2 separate regions of the Homo sapiens genome follow, and region 1 is linked to region 2. The links come from fine-mapping of genetic effects on gene expression. A gene starts in region 2. The other region holds a variant in brackets. All regions are shown on one strand. Distances are from middle to middle. Region 1 overlaps LOC124907986 (a long non-coding RNA gene). Region 2 holds the start of KCNE4 (potassium voltage-gated channel subfamily E regulatory subunit 4).

Evidence for each region. PIP is the estimated chance that this variant, and not a neighbour inherited with it, causes the effect.
Region 1: its variant is the best candidate, but not a certain one, in a credible set for the expression of KCNE4 in lung (TOPMed, PIP 0.52).

Annotation. Positions count from the first base shown.
Region 1 is chr2:223,111,343-223,123,360 of GRCh38, reverse strand. It overlaps LOC124907986 (a long non-coding RNA gene), which reads right to left. Exons shown (of 2, transcript XR_007088096.1): 2 at 1,340-1,623. It overlaps LOC105373905 (a long non-coding RNA gene), which reads left to right and starts at 10,991. Exons shown (of 3, transcript XR_923950.4): 1 at 10,991-11,080. The variant C/T (reference allele first, on the strand shown) is at 5,645.
Region 2 is chr2:223,044,803-223,056,820 of GRCh38, reverse strand. KCNE4 (potassium voltage-gated channel subfamily E regulatory subunit 4) reads right to left here and starts at 4,631. Exons shown (of 2, transcript NM_080671.4): 1 at 4,547-4,631; 2 at 1,184-4,013. The coding sequence starts at 3,990. The coding sequence ends at 3,478. RefSeq lists enhancers at 3,776-4,323, 7,976-8,035.

The DNA of each region.
Region 1 (12,018 bases), 67 kb before region 2:
ACCAAGGCTAAGAATGGCCAAGTGACTGTCCCAGGGCCACCCAAATAAGAAGCAGCAGAGTGAGGACTGCCCAGATTCTCTGTCAGATCTCCGTGCCTAACAAAGTGCCTGGCCAATTACCTCTCTGCACTGAGAGAGGTATGCATTCAATAAATACTCCTCTGAATGAATTAAGTAAACAAACGAGTGAATGACTTACTGAATGACTATTGAAACTCAACTCTGCCAAGGTTTTGTCTTGGCAATGCTAATTTACAGGAAAGACCTGTTGGCATAATTAAGTTGGAAAGTGCTGTTTGCAAAGTAACCCTGGAAGTGTCACCTTTCACAGCTCTCATGAGAACAAATCATCACTGGCAGCCATGTCAACACAAATAAGCCAAAGGAACCTTGTCAACACTGACGGTCTCCATTTTTATATTTAAAAAAAGGCACCAGAGAGGCTGGCCAGGCTACGCTCTGAGCTGGAGCCAAAAAGCTATTGCAGTCTCCTGCATTGAGACTTTGTGTTCTTTTCCATTGTGAGCGATTGAGCTACTGTGTAATATTTCCAGCCTGTCCTTCCTGTGACAGTTCAACCAAAGTTTAGTAATTTGTAAGAAAAATCTTAAATGATACCTCTTAAGTATACAATACTCTTTAGCCACAGGCTAAACTGCCTCACCTTAACCCCAATAGAAGACAATAGAAAAATCTTACTACAGTACTGAGTAAGATGAAAATAGGAATCTGCTAAGGTAATACAAAGATAGTTCATCTTTCAGCTTATTCTGAAATGATTTGTTTACTTGAGCAATTTCAACTTTTTTTTTTTTTTTTTGAGACACAGTCTTGTTCTGTCACCGAGGCAGGAGTGCAATGGCACAATCTCGGCTCATTGCAACCTCCGCCTTCCAGGTTCAAACAATTCTCCTGCCTCAGCCTCCAGAGTAGCTTGGATTACCGGTGCCCACCACCACACTTGGCTAATTTTTGTAGTTTTAGTAGAGACGGGATTTCATCGTGTCAGCCAGACTGGTCTCGAACTCCTGACCTCAAGTTATCCACTCGCCTTGGCCTCCCAAAGTGCTGGAATTACAGGCGCAAACCACTGCACCCGACCCACAACTTTTGAAGACAGTATTAAACATTTAAAGCTTAAAATAGTAAAAATCAGATGAAAAAGTATTCTTCTACTCCCATGTGAAAGTTTCTTTTTTCTCTAAAAAAAAGAAGAGGAAGGAGGATGAGAAGTCCATTAAAATGTTTTGTATGACATATTTGATGCAGTAGTGCATGACCAACAAGAAAAGAGTGGATAAAAATCTGTTACAGGAAGTGAATCAACTTTACACAACTCTTAAACTGTCCAATGATTTTTATTTAAGCATATGAAATAAACTTGACTCTCACATTTTATATATGTTATGGATCAATATTATAAACTCAATAGAGAAGCTTAGGTTTTTTAGTTTGTATGTCATCCATTGGGTCTCCCATGAAGACCTACACATAATAGGTATGTACTTATTGCAAATTAACCTGCACTAATATCCTCATCAAGGAAGTATAATTGGCAAACGTCCTTCCATTTTTGTCTATTCTTGAGGGCTCCATTATTCATCTGAAGTCTTCTTCCAAGACCTGGGGGTGTTAACAAATACAGAAGCATTTCAATTTCATAAGTCTGACTTTCTCATTTCAGAAGCCAGTGCCAATAAACCTCTTTTTGGAAGGCAAACATCAAAGGCCCACCTTTCCAGTGCTAATTACCCAAATAGAAAGAGAAACACAATTCTTAAGTGGATAACTGTTCCCAGCAGTTAGAGATCTAATCCTGGTCTTTGGTCAGGATATGATTAGTGTGTGAGTGTTGAGATATTCTGTTTATGTATTCCATGTTTGATCTGGTGTTCAGCCATGTGCCAATAATAACAACAAAAACAGTAGCATTTGTTGTGTATCTTCTATGTGCCAAGTAATCTTCTGAGTACTTTACATGTATTAAAACATTTAATGCAGCCTCTATGTTATGTCCCATGGTTCTCAGCCTTGCCAGCACATTAAAATTACGCAGGGAGTTTTTAAAACAAGAAACCCATATGCCCAGGGCACACTGCCTTGACCAACAAAATCAGAATCTCTGGGAGTGGACCCAGACTTTATAAATCTTCCCCAAGTGATTTTAATGTACAGTCAAGGTAATTAAAAAGTTTGACCTAGTCTAAAAACAAGGGACAAATACAGTCATGCAGCTTTGGTTAATCACTTAAGACATGGTCTATAAGCAGAAAATCTAATAGTTCCTTCTTAAGACATGCTCTCCATCTAAGTATTCAAGTGACTAGGGACTCATTTGGTCCAACTTTGGGAGTAACTGAGGACCAGTCTTACTTCCAAGTGCCAGGTAGAGCAAGCCCTGGATCCTAACAGCCCTCTGATGGCCCTGCATCTCATTGCCACAGGCATCTATGCAACACTCTAGGGGTGCAGCTTGGTTCTTGTTGCATTGATTTTTTAATCTTGCAACTTTACTGAATGTATTAGTTCTAAGATTATTTTTGTAAAGTCTTTAGGGTTTTCTACATATAAGATTATGTCATCTGCAAACAGAGACAACAAGCTTTGGAGAGGATGTAGAGAAACAGGAGCCTACACAGTGTTGATGGGAATGTAAATTAGCACAGCCATTATGAAAAATAGTATAGAAGCTCCTCGAAAAAAAATGGAACCAACATGTAATCCAGCTATTACATTATATTACATATAATAGCCAATTCTGGCTATACAGCCAAAGGAAAGGAAATCAGTATGTTGAAGAGATATCTGCACTCCCATGTTCACTGAAGCATTCTTCACAATAGCCAAGACATGAAATCAAACTAAGGGCCCATCAACAAATAAATAGATTAAGAAAATTGTCATATATATTCAGAGTGGAATACTATTCAGCCTTAAAAAGAAAAACAAGAATCCTGCATTTGCAAAAACATGGATGAACCTGAAGGACATTGTGTGAAATTAAATAAGCCAGGCACAGAAAGACAACTACTGCATAATCTCACTGATATATGGAACCTGAAAATGTCAAACTCACAGAAGCAAAGAGTAAAATGGTGGTTACCAGAGGCTGAGGGGTGGGGAGATTTGGGGAAACAAAGAGAGAGAAGCAGGATCAGAGGGCACTGGAGGGTCATACAGTGACCTGAATTTGACACCAAGTGAAGGCAAAGGGTAAGAGTCAAAGGGAAAAAGAGAAGAGCACCAAGCTTCCACCCTCGTCCTAGTGTCTGAGGCCAGGAGTTGAAGGCGTCTCTCTGTCTGCTAGTGCCAGGCACACAGTGCAGCTTCAGAGGCCCCCATGGCTAGAACTGGATAGATTCTGCTAAACCCCCAAGGGTCCAATTCACTTTCCAGCCAGAATCCAGCCCAGTGGCTTTTTTTCTCAGCTGATTCAACCCTTCTTCTCATTACCCAAAGCTCCAGTACCCTTCCTACTATTCCTGCAGAGATTAATTTATCTCCAATAACCCCAGTAGGAACCAAAGCTTTCCTGTTACACACAATCAAGATGTAATTCCAAGTTATGTTTGAGTATATAGGAAGAAAGTTCAGCCATATGTACAGAAATGGCAATGATTTTAACCTGTAACTCTACCTACTAATAGCCATTGGAAGGCATCTAAAAGATGTGGATAGATTTCCTCTAAGGAGGTGCAGGCCATACCAACAAACTGCTCAACATTGCCATTTTAAAGGTGTGGGAAGTAAGAGCTTGTTTCCACATACCCACCATGAGCTGAGTGAGAACAACAGGATTATGAATTGGATTCACATGTCTAAAATTGGGTCCTGCACCAAGTCCCTCGTGATGAGTAAAACTGAGAAAAAGAACCCAGAAACACATCCATGACAGCTTAATAGGATTTAAACAACTCTATCTCATTAACTTTTCAAGGGAACCCTGGCAAAGTATGAAATTTAAGCACCACTCCAGGCTGAGAACAGTTATCTGTTGTTCATGTCACTGCACCTGCCCTATACTCCAAAGACATGGGCCACAGCTGCTTCTCCCAAATGTGCCCTAGAATATCTAAAGGGTTGGCTGGCACACAGCAGGAGGGCATTCTGTTAGTGAGGGATGCCCCTTTTGAAGCTGTGTGTGCATAGCAAGTGCCCAGTTTTTATTTAGATTGCATATTTATTTGGAGTAGGATGGGTAGAAATTCCAACAGGGCTGAAGCCCTTCCAAGCCATATTTTTGCTCCAACGTAGGTATATCCAAAGTGAACACGAACCTCAATGGCAGAGTGAAAAGTGGCCCAATATGCTCTATCTATTGCAATGTGGGAAGCTTCTTTTTCTTGTATTTTCCTTTATTTTGATCTTTTTTTTTTTTTGGCAAAAGTAAAAGGATAGAGAAGCATGAATAGAAAATTTTCTATAATAAGAATACTATCAAGAAAATCCCCAAATTCTTAAGTTGGTTAAATGTTGTGAAAGAGATTTATCAAGAAATTTAATCATCTTTAAGTATTTCTCAGAACAGATACACTTTCAGAGAATCAAGAGATGCTTACTTTCTTTTCTCAGAACTGTTGTATACCACTTAAGCATTTTCCTGAAGGGAAACTGCCCCAACCAAGGGAAGGTCACCGGTGCACGCCATCTTTGACATAAATGTGACTTGTTTGATTTCCTGAGAATGAAAAGCCACCAATCCATCTTATCAGCAACACATTTTGTGAATGATACAAGCATCTGCTTCTTGACAAGACTGGAGTGATTAATACCATCCGAGAAAGGGTTAATTAAATTACCATCTATTTTCAAGCCATCCTGAAATAACCTTGTGGGAATTCTTTGAACCTGAGAAAAGCCACCAAATAAAGAAATTTGATGCGTAGTTCCCCTCACAAGGATAGTTTTGGCTATTTGGCAACAGGAAAGAGTTCTGGCAACAAAACCCTCTAAGGAGGACACTCCCATAGTTGCCAATTAACAGAAAGTCATCTGGGGAGAATGCACTATTCAGAGAATACAGTTGGCAGAACCTGTATCAACATATTTGCAGGTGAATTACTGTATGCAGTTGTTCAATGGTTTTGCCTCTGCTCTTTGGCAAGAAGGGAATTAGACGCAGGATGTGATTACTACCTTTAATATTCAACTTGGAAAGTTTCAGTCGTATGCATCATCTCATGGATGTCCGCATTCAGTTTCTTAAAAGTCTTTCAAAATGAAAGTACTATGTTAATTGATGTAAGACCACTACCCACCCTTTGGAGATACATCACCTGCTCCAGAAATTCCACTATGTACCCCCTCCCTGCACCCCAGGCTCCACACCTCCTTCAAAGCACACCCATGGTAACGAAGTCCTCCCTGCATCACAAATCAGATCACAGTGTGGAGGAATTTCCTGCTTAGACATCTTCTTCCATAATGGACCGGAAGCCTCTCCAGACTGGGAACTGGATCTCCTCCTTCTTCCTGTGTCTCCATCTGGAGCACAGTGCCTGGTACAAAGCAGGTTCTCTGCAACTGGTAGCTGAGTTCAAGTGAACTGAGACCCTTGGGGACGGGATTTCCCAGTGCTTTTAAATGTGCTTTTAAATGTGCTATTTAACCCTCCTTCCTATGTGAAATAAAAGGGGACTTTTTA[C/T]AGACATTAAATTTCCTATGAGCCATTTCTCAAAACTAAAATATGTTTATATGTGTTTTCCGCTATGCTAACCCCTGGTGTTTTCCGGTCTTCAACCAGAGCTCTTCTTCAAGCTGTGACCCATTCCTTTGTTTCAAGTGTTTTAATACTTGTTTTTTTTTTTTTTTTTTCCATCTCCATGGTGTTTTTCCTTCTGCAAATTATTTTTCCCTTTGGACCTCCTTCCTCCAGCAGTGTACAGGCCTGTGAAAGTAAAGTTTGAAGAGTCTTCCTGATTTTTACAGGAAGCTCTAAGAAAGAAGTAGATGAATATTATCCATGTTTAAATAGGATTCATTTGTCTGGTGTTTACCTACTATTGTAGTGTTCCACTAAAATTTAATAGAAAAAGTTTCAATGGAATACCTTGCCTTTTAATTAAAAGCCACAATTTTATTTGAATGTCAGAAATGCACTAAAGAAAATTGGCTGGAATATTTTAGGGAAGTGATTTGGAGACCTAAAAAGGTGAACAAGGTACAAAGGGGAAGATGTATGATAAACTCAAAACATACTCAAAATTTAAGTGTGCCTTACAATTGTAGATTTAAATGATTCTTAATATCATATGAACCTCATTGTGTATATAATAGGAAGTTAGAATTCAAGCCCCATGACGGCAGGGTCTATGTCTGACTTGCTACTCTCCCTAGTACTCATCAAAGCACCTGGTGCATAGCAGCCTCAATATTTGTTAAATTAATGAATATTTCTGAGTAATTAAATAAGTGGGGTTAACAGAAGTGAGTCCAAATGGATGAAAATACTACCTATTTCCCTCATACACCTCATTATACCTCATTATAGCACTGGGAATAGAAAATTGACTCAATCCAAAATAAGTCTACCAACAATTATTCAACTAACCACTGAGATCATGCAGAAGTTGTGCATAAAATAAAGATAAAAGATTTTGCCCTTGTCCTCAAGACAATTATTCTCAAGCTATGGGCTCCATACGCACACGAAATTAACAAGAGGAAAGGCAACAGATTCCTCTGTTTTTCCATTTTAAGCAGTGAGCCAAGAAAAACTATACATAACTGTTTACCTACAGGATCTGTGATATTTTATATAATGCCTATGAGGAAAAATGACTATTTCCACAGCTTTCGGTTTAAGAAATGAAAAGAGGTGGTTGGGCTTAGGATATTAGAGATAAGAAAAGCCCCAAAATTGGAATCTCTGATTTGAAGCATTTTAGCTGTATAATCTGGAATACTACCCAGTGGTAGCAGAAGTTAATGTTTATTAGGCCTAATATGAACTTTCCACTGTTCTACTATAATATTTCCACTATTGCAAGCACTTTCCACTATTCACGCACTCCTTTAACAACCCCGTTAAACAGCTGTCATTACTGTATGATTGGCATTTTACTGATTTAGACAACTGAGGCTCAGAATGCCTAACTTGCCAAAGGTTGTGCAACCACTGAGAGGCTAGCTCAGGATCTGACCACAGGTGGCCAGATAGGAGAGCCCACCCTCAGACCACCATGGATAGTGGTGACTATGGCTTGTGCTGATTCTCAATCAGTGATATCACTGTCATTTGGTGATTCTCAATCACTGAATCTTAGTCAGTGCTAATCAGTGCCATCCCTTCTGGAGGTCCACTGAGCCTCATAACAACTTTGGGAGGATCCTTTTGATCCTCAGTTTATTGATGAGAAAACGAAGGCTCAGGGAGGTCAGGTAACAGAAGATGTAAATTACAGAGTGTATAGCCGGTGACTCCAAATCTGGCTTCTTTCACTATAGCATGGTGCCTCTCAAATGACAAGTATGTGTCATCACTCTGTCACAAAATGTGGGGAAGGTCTATGCTTCCAGAAAGTTTTGGTCTTCAAGATGCTCGCATGAACCAAAACAAAGAGAACCACAGTTGCGGCTTACTGAGACTTTTTTTTTAATTTATGCGAATGAAATCTCTCTGGCTACCTCTCTTGCAATGCTTGATGATCTTTGGCATCTGAGCTGCCCTATTCTTGTTCCTACAGGTTTTCTAAACACTGGTAATAAGTGTGAAGAATCTAGCAGTGTCTTGGAGCACAGCAAACATTGGTGACTACATTTTGCATCCCAATGGCTATCTTAAATGTGAAGAATTTTTGGTAATCTCCCTCAGAGGTTTTAGACATTAAGTTTTTCATTATAGAACAAGATCAATGCGGCTACTTTTTACATAATTCATATCATGAGGACCTGATAACATTCCAGTGACTCTTTGTAGTACCTCAAAAGAAATGAAGTTCCTTCTAAAATGCATTAGCCAGTCAAGAATACAATGTTCTGGTAAGGCTGCTGAAGGCTGCCATGTGATATCAAAGATTTCCAAAGAATATCTGAGTCATGAATCCTTCATTTAGTGATTTAAGATTATTATGAAGCATCTGACCCCCAATCCAAAATGTAAAACACTAATAAACTCTTTAAAATATTCAAGTTAAACACAATTTATTATCTTAATATCCTCCTACTAATTATGCAGTTGTCATCATTCTCAAAATTAAATGACTGCTTCCTACAGTGCTGGGAAAAGAGGAAGTGCCTGACCTCAAGAAACTTAAACCACAGCAGGCATGATTCCTTCTACCTCAGTTTCCCTACATGAGAAGACTTCCTTAAAGGTGAAGTTTGGATTGGAAACCATATCGGACAGGTCCGGCTCCAACCAAGTCCCCAGAGAACTTCTTCTTCTTTTTTTTTTTTTTTTTTTTAAGGTGGAGTCTCCCTCTGTCGCCAGATTGGAGTGCAGTGGCGCAATCTCGGCTCACTGCAATCATCTCCGCCTCCCAGGTTCAAGCGATTCTCCTGCCTCAGCCTCCCAAGTAGCTGGGATTACAGGGGCATGCCACCACACCCAGCTAATTTTTGTATTTTTAGTAGAGACGGGGTTTCACCATGTTGGCCAGGATGGTCTTGATCTCCTGACCTCTTGATCCGCCTGCCTCGGCCTCCCAAAGTGCTGGGATTACAGGCGTGAGCCACTGCGCCCGGCCAGTCCCCAAAGAACTTCTACAAGCTCACCCCTCCACTCCCTACTCTCCAGTATGTTGGAATTATGCAGTCTTTCATTTTTAGAAATGTATGTGTAAAAGACCTCAAAGAATCTTCAGCTCCAGTCTCCTACTTTACACTTGTTTGTAATTTTTCTGGTTTTTGAAGATCCTAAGAACTTAATCTATAATTTTCTCTTGCTTATTAGGCTAGAGACTTATTATGGACTCCAATGGTCTAATAAAATGCTCTTTCCTGAAACTTAAACCCATTTCCTGTTGAATTCTATACAGCTGGAGAGTCGTGTTGACTTTTCGTGTCTGAAATAACAATCATGAAGCCTTCACTGCTTTTTCTTTTATGAGTCAACAACTGTCTTAGTTAAATTATTTCTGTACGCAAGAAACAGAAACCAGCTTTAATAAATGTTTAATAAAACTTCACAAGGAATTTATTATAAGGGGATATTACATTCTATATAAGGACAAGGATACACCTGAACCTCAGAAAAGGACTAAAACTATGAAATGAAGCAGCTCTGGAACCAAGGTGACTCTCCTATCAGTAACAAGTAGAGAGTTCAAACAGAGCCTGAAGCCAGACTCCCCAGGTTCAAGTCCCAGGTCCACCACAGGCTCTACCTTCAGAGAAGGGCCATCATCACAACCAGTCCTTCTTCCTCATGATCAAATCATGTATTCCTTTCTGAAACTCCTGAAGTTCCATTACACCTCGCTAAATGTTGCACTCTCTCAAAAGTATAGAACAAACTCTATGGGCAGAAAGAGAGAAGCTCAGTATTCTTCACCTGTAGAAGTCAATACTTTTCCTGGAATGAGAAATAGACCGTTTGTACCTCTATCTAATATCACTACTTCTACTACATAACTGACCCACATGCTACACTCTCATTGAGCTTAGTAGAATTAAGACAATAGAGTCTTTTTAAAAATAGTTTATCTATTCATTTTGATTTTGAGGACAGTTTAGTTTGTGTCTTCAAGTAAGTGGTAGTGATTTGCCCTAACTGAGTTTTACACTCTTTTAGAGGTTCTAATTTCTTCCTTTCCTATCTTTCAGACTACTGTCTGGAATTCGATTACTATCTTTCAGACTCTCAGCACCCTATTATTTCAGGCCATCTGAAAACTCAACAACTACATTCTTGATGCCATTCTTCAGCTGCTAATCCATCTTCAAGTTTGGTCACCCACAGCATGTATGACAGATGTCATACAAAGCAGATGGCAGTTGCCATCAGCACCAACCCCTTTTATCCTTTCTGCCAAAGGCTGACAAACCTTATGGTAATCTTCAATGAGTCACAGCCTTGTATAATCCCTCCCTGTGAATGTGGGCAGAACTTGTGACTTACTTCTAGCCAATAAAATATGGCAATGGTGATGAGATGTTACCCCCATGATTATGTGACATTACTTGAAACACTGTTTCAGCACACTGGAGTAAGATTCTCTTGCTGGCTTTAATGAACTAAGCTGTCATGTTGCAAGGGAATCTATCAGAGGTCCACATAGCAAGGAATGGGAGTGGCCCCTAGGAGCTGACAGTGTCCCCAGCCACTGTCAACCAGCAGGAAAATGGGGACCTGAGTCCTACAACCCCAAGGAACTGAACTCGGTCAACAATCTCAAAAGCTCAGAGGAAAACTCTGGCTCCAGGAAGGAATGCAACCCAGGCAGCAACTTCATTTCAGCCTCATGAGTTCCTGAGCACAGAATCCAAGTAAGCCATGTCTGGACTCCTAACTCATGGTAAATGCAAATTATAAATGAATGGTGTCTTAGGCCACTGAATTTGTGGTAATTTGTTATGCAGCAAGATAAAACTAGTGAAGCATTCATCTCCTCCCCATCCATTCCCTAACCTTCCATGACCCCTCCTTATGCTGAACATGCAATAAATCAACGCCCGCCTTAGCTGATCATTAAAACATAAGGAAGGGAGGTGATATTGACTGAGCACCCATGATCTGCCAGACAAAATACAAAATCTCTTTTAATTCTATGAGGTAGGTATTGCTGACTTCGCTAATGTTTCATTTTCTTATCTGAAAACTGGGTGTCATGGACTGAATTGTATCCCCCTCCTAAAAAATTTATAGGTTGAAGCCCTAACCCCCAATGTGACTGTATTTGTGGAAAGGGCCTATAAGGAGATAATAAAGGTTGAAGGGGTCATAAAGGTTGTGCCCTAATCCAACAGGACTGATAGCCTTACAAGAAGAAGAGACACCAGAGAGCTCTCTCTTTGTGTGCACAGGGAAAAGACCATGGGAGAACACAGAGAGAAGGCATCATCTGAAGCCGAGGAGAGAGGCCTTGCCAGAAACGGACCCTGCTGGCACCTTGGTCTTGGACTTTCAGCCTCCAAAATGGTGAGAAAATAAATTTCAGTTGTGTAAACCACCCAGTCTGCAGCATTTTGTTATGGCAGCCTGAACAGACTAATACACTGGGGATAAGCATTTTGACTACAGTTGCCCATTAAGACAGACATGGAGGCAAATCATGTCACCACCCTTCCCGCTTCCTGATTATCCATCTTTGTGTCAGTAGATATTAACTATGAGGGTCTATAGCATTGACTCTTTTTTCTCTACTTCCTTCTCCTCTTCATGCTCATACAATATCTTGATTATCAAGCATTGTCTTTAAGGTAGGGATAGGAAAGAGTGTTCCAATTTAATTCCAGGTAGCTCCAGCCCAACTCTGATCCTGACAGGTCGACCAAGTAATGCTCTGATAGGAAATGCCTTCCCTGGATTTCTCAGGCAGGCCCTCAATCTTCCCACTCTTTTAGTTGCTGTGTGATATTCTGAAATTGTTCTTTTATAATCCTAATTTTTCTCTGTGCCTCATTTTCCTCATCTGCATATTGAGGAAAATTATGGCCCCTATCTCATAATGTTGTAGTGATAATAAGTTAGTCTAAACAAAGAATTTAGCTCTCTCACTGGTACACAGAATGCACTTTGTAGGTGTTAGCTGCTTTTCTCATTTTCAATGGAACAGAACACTTTATTTCTAAGCAGCTCCAGTGAAATACTTCATTGCCCCAAACAAAGAGCTACAGCAATATCCCTTCCTATTTGGTAATCATCCTAAACTGTCTGTGGGGTTTCACATCTTCTTGTCACAAAACCATCCACCAAAACACTACTATGCATTCACACTGGTAATCTAGCGGGTCACAACTTTGGTATCCTATAAACCCAGCTAGACTCTCCCCAATTCCCTAAGCCCCTCCCTAGCCCCTTCCAGGGAGGCAGTTTCCCTGTAACTCTTGCATTTCTGAGTGTCCTGGGAGCATAGC
Region 2 (12,018 bases):
CAGGATGATCCATTTACCTCATCCCTAACATTTAAGTGCTTTCAAAATATGTTTTTAATATCTTAGGTGCACAGGGCCAAATTATCCTCTCAGTTTTTCACATGCATGAGTAAATCCACACAGACTAAACCCCTTGGGCCTTAGGTTCTGCTTAGAAATTCTTTTTTTTTTTTAAAGAAAACAAATATCCCATTAAAACGACAAAGTGTACTCTGCATATTTTTAGGACAATTAGAGTTTAGAATTCCCTCTCCTTCCACCCATGGCTTAAAAAAATAGAAAAATTCTTAACCATTTCCTTACGAAGAACGACATTAAACTGGGACAAATGGAAAGGCTCTCTTGCCTTTTACAGCAATCTTCTCATCTTACATCATCAAAGTACCAACTGATGGATCAGGGCCCTCGATATTGTTTGGGAAGGATCCAGGCTCCACTGTACTGTTGCCAGGTAAATTTTTTAGGTAGACAGTTACTAGTGAACTGAAGGGAAACACTTACTTGAAACAGAAAAGCCAATCTCACAGGAAACAGAGAAACATAAAAGTAAGGATGCTTCCTACCATTTGCTTGATTCAAAAACAGGTCATGCAAATAAAATTATGAAGAAGAGGCTGCCGCAGGCTGGCCACGGCCTCAGCCTGTGGGCAAGAGATACAGACAGACCAAGTGGGAGGGGCTGGAATCAGTCCCAGTCTGAAGGAGACCAGGAGAGGGAGGAGAGTCAACCCCAGCCCCACACGTCGTGCTTCACTGTGTTGGTAAGTTTGTGTTGCTGTTCATACAGCAGCTCTTTGCCCATTAGCAGGTGCTGCTGGGCCACATGTGTGGATAATATTTGCCAAGCCAACATACAGGTCAAACGTTTTCTTGCAACCAAGCTTGGAGCAACATCTTAGCAGCAGTTGACCTGTCACTGCATGTTCAAAGTCCAAAGACTCCAGGGCTGCCATATTTAAACAGAGAAGTCCATGTAAGACCATCTGCAGCTTGTTTTCCATTCATTACAAAGCATTTCAAAGGATGAAAAGCCAAGCCTCATTCACCCCATGGTTCAGACAGAAATAAGATACGCCCTCAGGAGATACTGACTTGGGAGAGGAGCAAAATCCAGAGATGTCTTGGGAAACGTATCTGTGATGTCTTCGAAACTAACAATTATATTGAAAAATCAAACAAAGAATTCATGACTTCCCAGGAGGGAAAAAATGTGTTTATTTATTTAAATTAAAAAATATTGTGAAAATTACAAAGTGTTAAATACAAAAGACAATTCTATACAACTCAACAGAATAAGAAGGAAGTATATACATCACTTTTTAATAGGTGCAGAGAGACTTGCACCAAACTTCAGGATTAAGCAATGGAAAATGTGACAAGGCACATGTCCGTCGCAGTGAAATTTCAGAATTCAAGTGATTCCAGGCAAGAGGCCAAACTTAACTTGGCTTCTTTCAACTTAAACAGCCCCCTTTGGCATAAGTCCACACTGAATTTTAAAGTGAACAGAGGGCCTTTTTCCCCCAAACATAAATTTCCTTTAGCTGTATGTCAAAGCGGACTGATAAACCAGCTCCTACACTGTTAACCCTTCCATGGCAACAGTAGTTATTGCTGTGTCTCCAATCCATGCAGAGCATTTTTCTTTAAAAAAAAAAAAAGTGGCCGGGTGCAGTGGCTCATGCCTGTAATCCCAGCACTTTGGGAGGCCGAGGTGGGAGGATCATTTAAGGCCAGGAGTTTGAGACCAGCCTGGCCAAAATGGCGAAACCCCATCTCTACTAAAAATCAAAAAATTAGCTGGGCGTGGTGGCAGGCGCCTGTAATCCCAGCTACTCAGGAGGCTGAGGCAGGAGAATCGCTGAAACCCAGGAGGTGGAGGTTGCAGTGAGCCAAGATTGCACCACTGCACTCCAGCCTGGGCAACAGAGCGAGATTCTGTCTTAAAAATAAAAAATAATAATAAATAAATAATTTTTTTAAAAGTTTTTTTAAATAGATTTAAATTTGACCTTTTACTTCCTCCTTGTCTTTAAGGGCCTAACGGATCTGCGAAACTGTTGACCACAGGAATACTTGGAGACATTGGAAGCATTCCTGTGTGTTTTCCTTTAGACTTTGCTTTCCCTTAGCTGGGAGTGTTAACATCACACATTCTCCAGAGAACTTTGCAGAGGAGAATGTGGTGTCTGCCTCTTTCCTTCAGTCCTGGGAAAACTACAGCAGGGCTGGGTTGGTAGCTTGCCCTGAATTCCCCAGTTATATGTGTTCTGAATCTCCAACTGCTCCTTTAAATCAGCAGATCCTTGTTCAGACTAACCGGCCAAAGGGGAAGCATTTGGTCCAAGCTTCCTCACACCAGGCTGTGGAATATTTATCACAGAGTCCTAAAATCTAAAGACATCCTCCCAACCCCCTGGGGATGGAGATCGTCGGGAGCCTCATGCAGACAGCGAGCTTCTTGATGACATGCCCGGGACCACACAGCAAATGAGTGTCAGGGCTCGGGATCAGGAAGCACAGAACTTGGAGCCCAGCTTTGTGCAATCTCCGCCTGAGTATGCCCTTCTAGGTCTCAGCTACGTGACGAAATACCACATTATGTCCTCTCCCAGCTCAGAAAACTAGGCTGGGAAACTGAGCAGCAGCAGAGCTAACGGCTTGGCCTTGTTCAACCCCACTTTACCCCTTCTAGAAAGATCAGGAAGAGTCTCCTGAACCACCATCGGGAGTGCAGGTTAGATTCTGGGGAAGCTCTTCTGATCCAAAGAACGTCATGCCATCATGTGATGCTGCATGGTCACAGGTCAGAGTTCAAGGTCATAAGTTAGACAAAAGGTCAAAATAGAAGATCATCTCTTATAACCCCGGCCAATGTTAACAGGTTTAAAAGTTACTTTTTTTTCTTATAGTGTGCAAATGGGCTGGGTTCAGATCTCCAGCTTTCTCCCATCAAAAATCCCCCTCTAATCCAAAAGAAGCTTGTAACCCACTGTGAAGGAATGCCACAGGTACACAGTAGAGATACTTACAGCCAATCAGATCTAGAAGGACAAAGCTCTAGGCAAAATAGCAAATCACAACTAGTCTCTCAGCGTGTCCTAAGCATTCGGCAGCCCTGGGAACAGGCAGACCCTGCAGGAGCTACCCAGGGCATCCAGTGAGAAAATGGCAAACATATCATCCCGCCAAATTCTGATCAGAACCCCAACACCCAGGCCCCAAAGTCAGTGTACGCGCTGCGCATCTCCGCGGCTTTTTCAGTGGTGGGTGCAAACCACAGGCACCTCCCGGACTCCTTGGAGGTGCTGGTTCCGGCTGAGCCTAGTCCCCCACCCCACCCCGAATCAGGGGTTTACCAAGGGTCTCTTCAAAGTGGCAGCCGCACTGTGAAAGTGAAACCAGACACTTGAAAACTGTCTTTCCTCTCTCTAAGGTTGCTGGCTGATGGAGCCACCGGCAGGGGTCCCGGGGGTGCTAGGAATTCTGATGGATGTTCTCCGAGGACCCTTCGCTGCTCTCGTTGAGGGGCGTCTCCGAGGTCTCCTCCAGCTCATCGTCTGCCCCCTCCTCCTGAATGGTGAGGTGCACGTCCGGGGAGGAGGACTCGGAGCTCACGCTGTCCCCTTCCATGGAACAGAGGGTGCAGGACAGCGCGGGCGCCACGCTCTCCTGCAGCATGTTCAGCATCAGGGGCACCTGCACCGACCTCAGGCCCGACACCACAGGCAGCGGCTTCATGGCCTCCCCCCAGAGCCGCTCCTCGTCTTTGTACAGCAGCAGGAGGCTGGACTTCTTCTCCCGCCTCTTGGATTTCATGTAGCCCAGCATGATTCCGATCAAGAAAATGCCGTAGAAGGACATGACAACCAGAATGTAGAAGTACTCGTTGCCATTGCCGCTGCCGCCGCCGGCCGCACGGGACTCCAGGGGGCTGCTGGAGGCGGCGGTGCCGGGGTGCGTGCTGTTCAGAGGCTCCATTTTCAGCATTGAGGCTGCCTCCACAGCAGGGGCTGGGGAAAAAGCCGCAGGTTAGAACTCTCCCCCAGGTCCTGGGCACAGGGAGGTGGGGGAGCACGAGGTTTGTGGAACTGCAATACCAAAAAAGCTTAAAAGTGCATGAAAGAAATAGCATAAGAGGGTTCGCCAAACAGCTGACAAGAGTGAGCTATGAGGGCTTGGAGTGCACGGGAGAGAAGCCCGGGAAGGTTCACTGGGAAAAGTAAGAAGGACTTTTTTTTTTTTTTTTAGTGTACACATTTGTCCTGTTTGTAGTGAGCAGTATTACTTTGATTAAAAAAAAAATCAATGTAAGACAGGAGCATACAGTAAATAGTATCTTTAAAACTGGGAAACGTATTTTAACTGAGCAGAAACAAAGTTTACATTGTGTTTCCAAAACCAAACTATTTTAAATTCAAAACAATGTTTCCTTAGAACAAAGAAAAGCAGGAAGAAAATAAAGGAAAAAAATTCATCTATTAATTGGCAAAAATGTCCCTCTTTCAAATGTTTCTGAAAGCAAAGTGTAGCCTTGCTGACTTACCAAGGCTGACAGTTTGTCCCAAGTTTTGAATTCCCAAATCGTCCAGTCCAAGAGGGTTCTTCTGCTCTGTCCGGCTCTGCGCTCTGACAACTCCGCTGCTGCAGTTGGGATATATAGTCAAGAAGTGCATCGTCACGTGCTCTGGGAGGAAAATTTACAACAGAGATTGATCGTGGCAGAGTGAGCAGTGAACTGAAAGCACTGCAGTTCAACTCCCTGAACTTTGCAGCTGTGAAAAGTGAAAAAGACTGGGAAGTGGGAACTGCTCCTCAAGCCCCAGCACCCGGCCAGGGTTTTCAGGTAGCGGTGACGATGAGTGAAAAGAGGAGAAAGGGATGTGCTGTGCTGGAACCGTTACCCCAAAGTCCGCGCTCACTGAAAATTAGCTCATGCTTCGCGCGGCTCCTGGGGAATAACCATTATTGGGCTACAGGTTTTCAGAGGCAGCTGAATCCCATAATCTGGATGAAAGACAGTTGGAAGCAAGTGCGGGATTTACAGTCAAGGAACTGGGGCTTCGGTTTCAGTTCTTCCACTCCTTATGCAAATAAGATAAATCCTTCCTTAACCTCTCCGCACCTCACATTCCTCGTCTGTAAAATCGTTGTGCCTGGCGGGGGGGGGGGTCTTCTGCAGGTAGGATTATATAAACCACGTGACCTTTTGAGACCCTTTCAGCTTAACCCTTCTAAGATTGAAGGCTGCCTGGTGTTGCTTAGCCCTCTAAAAGCAGAGATTCTAGCTGCCTTCCACATCAAGGTCACAAACCTATGTTTATAATAATTTTTTTTTAAAAGCTCCCACATTCTTTTCAGTGGTCTGCATTAAGTGGAAACATGTTGTCGTAAAAGATACTATGGGCAGGTTTTGTTCCGTCCTGCCATACACAGCTGCTCCTCTGAAGCCTCATGCGGAGGCTATTGACACGTCTCTTTGCTGTCTCTCGTAGGTCAGGGGAGGAGCAGGACTATTTCAGAGTGCAACTAAGCACAGTTCAAGTTTTTTAAACCTCGGTAGACCCTGTGTTTAAATGGCTGCTGTGATCAAAATTGGAAGAGGAATTGCAGGCTTTAATGTCAGTCTCTCTGCTCCCTGGGCTGCTTATTCTGAGGCTTTCATGCTAAGTGGAAGGAAACTGGGAGAGATCCACTCCCTCCAGTTGTCTGTGGCCTGTGGATTGCAGCCAGACTGTCTTGTGGGCCAACTCTAAAGGAAACATCTCTCATGGTTCTGCTGTAGTCAAACTGACGCATGCGACATCCACCTGACCTGCTTGAACATATATAGCTTAGGCACTGGAATTTTCACTGCTGCTACAGGAACCCCCCTGGGTTTGCACCTGATCCTGATTCTAAGAAGACACCTGGAGGAAGAATAGGAAGATGAACTGAATGCTGCCATTTTTCCCACTTGACTACTCACCTGTGTTCATCCATAAATCCCCAGCTGGCACTGGAGGTACCAACCATCGACCACTCCAGCATCACGATCATCCATACAGTGGAACTGTGCTCACACCAGTAAAGATACCCTCACCATTGTGTTAATACGTAAAACCCTCCATAGCTACCTCAGCCATGGTAGACTTGGTCTTTTCAACAGGTGTCCATCATAAACACTAGAACACTTCCATCTATATCTAAGCCTACACTGGAATGTCTGGGACACTAGAACAAGATGGGCCCAAGAAAGAGATGCCTGTTGATTGTTGACCCTGGTATTTTTTATTGTATACCTTAGGACATACGAGATTGGTCATCATCCAGGGATTGTCCAACACCAAAGACTGGAAGCTTTGAGTAGGCAGAAAGGAGGTGGGGATAGGAGTTACCAGATTCAAGGAGCAGGAAGTACAAAGCCTGGTGCCAGGAAGCCAAACAGAGGCTGAAGTTTTAAACATAATAAATCCCCAAACCTGAGCCAACAGTCCCAAGGGAATACAACCAAGAAAAGAGATGAGTGTGGGGAAACATCGAGAATGAATTCCAAAGGACGAAGCAAGTCAGAGCCAAAGGAAAAGCAGGACTAATTGCAGGAGTCAGGGAAGGAACAGCCCAGAAGAAATTCTGGGGTGCCTGCTTGGAGTCCCTGCTGCCCCGATTCCCACATACTTCCTGCATGGATATTTCTACTAGAGTTAAACGAGGCCAACTGCAGTGTCTTAGTTCAGTAATCCCAATGCTTGAAGAGGCTGAGGTGGATGAATCACTTGAACCCAGGTGTTTGAGACCAGCGTGGGCAACACAGTGAGACCCCATCTCTACAAAAAAATACAAAAATTAACTAGGCCTGGTGGCGAGTGCCTGTAGTCCCAGCTACTTGGGAGGCTGGGGTGGGAGGATCACTCGAGACCAGGAGTTCAAGGCTGCAATGAGGTCTGAACATGCCACTACACTCCAGCCTGGGTGACAGAGCGAGATCTCTAAATAAATAGAATAGAATAGAATAGAATAGAATAGAATAGAACAGAACAGAATAAAATAGTTCAATGAAATGATGCAAAGAAAGCACCATGTCTGGCCAAATGCACATGCTCAGTGCCTGTGTTTAGTTGTCATTGTTAGGAGTACGCTGTTGCTCCCAAGGGCTTCAGGTTGCCTCCTGTCATGTGTGTGCCCATCTCCAGACTTTTAACTCCAGACTTTTTATCACTGCTCCTTCCCCTGTCTGTCACTCCCAGGAATGGAATTTAAGAGAAGGGAATTCCAACTTCAAAATGCATAGCTCAATCTTCTTCCCAGCCCTCACTCATGACAGGGATTGCGAGAATGATGGCACTGAATAATGGCATAAAGAATGAGGGAGAGAGGGTACATCTAGAAAGTGCACTCTGTCGGGAGAGGATGGGACTGCACAAGAATTATTAATTATATCTACCCCGGGCCTCAGTTTTAGGAGACAGCAATGTTAAAGAAATAAATCAATTTCGGCTAGCATTTCCATTTCCTGAACAGTGTCTTTTCAGGAGCAAACATATCTAATTCTGATGAAGTCCAATTTATTTTAAATGTTTTTGGTTGTGCTGTTTGAATCCTATCAAAGAAATATTTGCTTAACCCAGTCATGAGGATTTTCTCCTGTTTTGCTTCTAGAAGTTTTATGGTTTCAGCCTTACATTTAGGTCTATGATACATTTCAAGTTAATTTTAGTCTAAAATGTAAGATATAGGTCAAGGATTTTGGGGAGGGGTTGTTTGTTTTTGTTTTGCTTATGGATGTCCAATTGCTCCAGCATCATTTGTTGAAAAGACTCCTTTTCCTATTTAAAATTATCTTGGAAACTTTGTTGAAAATCAATTAACCTTATATAAGCAGGTCTATTTCTTAACTCTTCATTCTGTTCCTTTGATCTATCTGTCTATCTTTGCATCGATATTATTCTGTTTTGATAAATCCATTTTAAACTTGTATTTTAAATGAGTCTAAGATACACTGCAGTTCAAATCTAGCTTAGTGTCTATCATATACCAAGTACACATAAGTCCTGTGAGGTCAGGTATTATTACAACCATTTCATAGATAAGGAAACTGAAAGTCAAAGAGTCAAAGAGGCAAAGTTGCTCCAGGTCAAATCACTAGCAGTACAGTCAGTACTTGACCCCAGATCTATGCAACTCCAAAACCCATTCTTTTTCCACTACCTTTTGTCTCACTGAATGGAAAACAAAAAGAAACTGAGAAAGAGTAGGAAGTGAAAGATGGACATTTTTCCAACTTCTTTTGAGTCTTCATAAAACTTTTTTTTTAAAAAAAATGTGAATTCTGACATAACTAGATACTCACACATAAATACACACGTGGAACTACAAGTTGTCTTTTTCTGAATTCATATTATTTTAAGTACTGGAGGCTGCACCAACCTCAGCATGTTCTAGAAGTTATCAGTGAAGCAGTAATACTCTTACCGTATACCTATGTTGTCCATAGTACAGTAGTTTCTCTGCCTACATATACAGCCTGATATGGTTTGGCTCTGTGTCCCCACCCAAATCTCACCTCGAATTGTAATCCTCACGTGTCAAAGGTGGGACCAGGTGGAGGTAATTGAATCATGGGGGCTGTTTCCCCCATGCTGCTCTCATGATAGTGACTGAGTCTCACGAGACCTGATGGTTTTATAAGCGTCTGGCATTTCCTTTGCTTGCACGCACTCCATCCTGCCACCCTGTAAAGAAGGTACCTGCTTCTCCTTTGCCTTCCGCCATGACTGTAAGTTTCCTGAGGCCTTCCCAGCAATACAGAACTGTGAGTCAGTGAAACCTCTTTCCTTTATGAATTACCCAGTCTCAGGTATGTCTTTATTAGCGATGTGAGAACAGACTAACATAAGCCTGTTCTGGTCTTCTTGTTTTAATGTGGGTTTTTTTGTTTGTTTGTTTGTTTGTTTTTTCCTATTTGATCCTGACACACACTTTCTCTAGAGCTTTGAGTACTTTCATTTCCTGGTAACGTCATTTTTACCAGATGACCCAGGAGTCCCTGGCCACACATCTCTGAAATTATGTTAACAGCTTCTGTGACTAAACAAAGTCTATGCTGGGATAACAGCATGGCTGTGAATCTCATCGGATTAAACGTAAGTCTGGAGTCCAGAAATCTGACCCAGCTCAGCCTTGCTGATGCTACGTGACTGGCTGGGTTGCATAATTGCTCTGTGTTTCAGTTTTAGCCACCCTCAGGCATGTCAAAAGTAGCATCATTAATTGTCTCAGGATCCTGAGAAATCTCCCATAATCCACTGGGCTGTCCCCCTCCTGAGCAGACCAGGCTTTGGGTCTGGCAGAATATTGCAAAATGAAATCCTCAGTGCCCACCACTGGTTTTGCTTTTCCCAGAAATTCTGTCTGAAAAGTTCTGTCTGGGAACTCGAGCAGTGGATCATCCCTTCTAATGCCCTGAGTCACCCTCCCTGGACACATACTTTTTAGCATTCCTATCACTAGAAATAAAACAGGGCTGGATATCTGACAGGTCCTTAGTAAGGTCCCCAGGCCCTCCCTGTAACACCAGCTATGCTGTGGAGGATGTGGCTATCAGCAGGTCCTGCTTAGATATCACCCAAAGGGGGTTAAGAGGGAAGAACCAGAACTCCTAAAATTAACAGTGAAGTTGGTATTAATTCACCTTTGTTATGTATTATTCAAGCATTTTTAACCTGATATTTATTTAACAAATACTTGCATAGTACCTAAAAGTGCCTCAGGAATTGCTGTAAGTACTTTGCAAAGTTTATCTTATTTAATTCTCATAAAAAGCCCTTGAGATAGGCTCTGTTATTATCCCCATTATACAATAAGGAAACTGAAGCAGAGAATGCTGGAGCAGCCTGCCCCAGATCACACAGCTAGTACATGGCAGAGCTGGCATTGGAACCCAGAGCTGAAAAAAGAGAAGGGAAAGAAAAAAAAGAGAGAAGAAAAACATTGCCTCTGCCTCTATAGACCTTACCATTGGTGAGGGAGGCAGACAAGAATCCCAAAATTGTGTGTTTAAAGTTGCAAGAATGACAAATATTGCAAAAGAGAAAGGATGCTAGGAAAGTTAATATTAAGGGGATTGAATTCCTTAGAGAAATCAGGGAGGACCCCCTAGAGGAAGTGATCCTTGAGTTGGGATCTGAAGATTGAGCAGGAATTAGCCCAGATGAAGTGAGAAGGTAAGAGAATTCTGGCCAACGGTAATCTGTGGAAAGATCCTTCGGAGGAAGAAAGTGGGGAGGGAAGAGAGATGGCAAGAATGAGGAACTAAAAAGTCTATGGGGACTCTGTCAAGGAACAAAAAGGAACCTGGTAGAAGATGCAGCAGGAGAGGCCAGCATGGGCCAGAAATGTGCCACCTGGGAGCATGAGGACAGGAGACCAAGGAAGTAAAAGATAGATTCCTGCTTTGAAGAGCTCAAGTACCAACTGGGGAGACAACCCCAAGGCCTGGGGCGAGTGTGTGATCATTCAGGACTGACTGAATGCATGATCGCTGAGCACATGCAAAGAACAAACTAAGAGCATACATGCCTGTGCACAGTTAGCACCAAGGAAACCAGAGTGAGGAGTTGACTGACTTAATGAGTGTGTTTGTGAATAACCGTGGGAACACAGACTTTGCTTCCAAGATTCTTATCAAGAGTTCCAGACAGGCCAGGCGCGGTGGCCCACGCCTATAATCCCAGCACTTTGGGAGTCCGAGGTGGGCGGATCACGAGGTCAGGAGATCGAGACCATCCCGACTAATACGGTGAAACCCCGTCTCTACTTAAAAAATGCAAAAAAATTAGCCAGGTGTAGTGGCAGGTGCCTGTAGTCCCAGCTACTCGGGAGGCTGAGGCAGGAGAATGGCGTGAACCTGGGAGGCGGAGCTTGCAGTGAGCGGAGATCGCACCACTGCACTCCAGCCTGGGCCACAGAGTGAGATTCGGTCTCAAAAAAAAATAAAAAATAAAAAATAAAAAAAAAGAGTTCCAGACAATTAAACTAAAGCTCTTGAATGTATCTCAACCACATTTCTCAAGAGCTATCAGTGGTGTGCTTAGAGTAATTCCTGAAACTTTGACAAGGTGACACAGAACTCCCAGAAGCAATAAGACAAATCAACATGTCAGTGAGTGTAGTTTTAAAAGATGGGCTTAAAAGTACGCAGATGGCAAATCCAAGTGTCAGGAACTCAGATCAGATGATGGTACAGCATATAGTTTAAGGGCACAGGCTCTGTGGTCAGGCTGCCTAGGCCTGTCTTGGTTCTTCCTACTAGCTGTGTGACCATGGGCACATTTCTTAACCTCTCTGTGCCTCTCTTAAAGAGGCATAAGAGTATCTATCTCATAAGGTTGTTGTGAGGAAGAAATAGAATTATCCACTATTGCACCTTCTGTTTAGACTGAGCGCCAAGACAAAAATACAAAAGGTTTGAGCCCCTTTCCCACATGAAGAGTGTTTTTTAAAAATTAAAAGTAGAGGATTTTTAAGAAAGAGTCATTGATGTTTTCTCTTCCCCTTCCTGGGGAAGATGTGGGGAATGGGCTGCTTTCTTCTCAAGTTAAGGGAAGTGAGGGGGTGCTTCACAGAGATCACTTGAGAGTCTCAGTGGTCTCTGTGGCCTGTAACCTGCTGGACACAGAGGACTGGGATCAGAACCACACCTAGAAAAATTTGAAGGGCAAGAAACCATGTCTGGCCAGAACTCTGGGGAGAGCTTGCTGAGTTAGGAATGCCCATGCTCCCAGGATTTTTTTTTCCTTTGGGGCGGGGTAGGGAGGGTGGGTGTTTTTTGTTTTTTGTTTTTTGTTTTTTTTGAGATGGAGTTTTGCTCTCGTTGTCCAGGCTGGAGTGCAATGGCACAATCTCGGCTCACTGCAACCTCCACCTCCTGGGTTCAAGCGATTCTCCTGCCTCAGCCTTCAGAGTGACTGGGATTACAGGCACCTGCCACCACACCCGGCTAATTTTTGTATTTTTAGTAGAGACGGAGTTTCACCATGT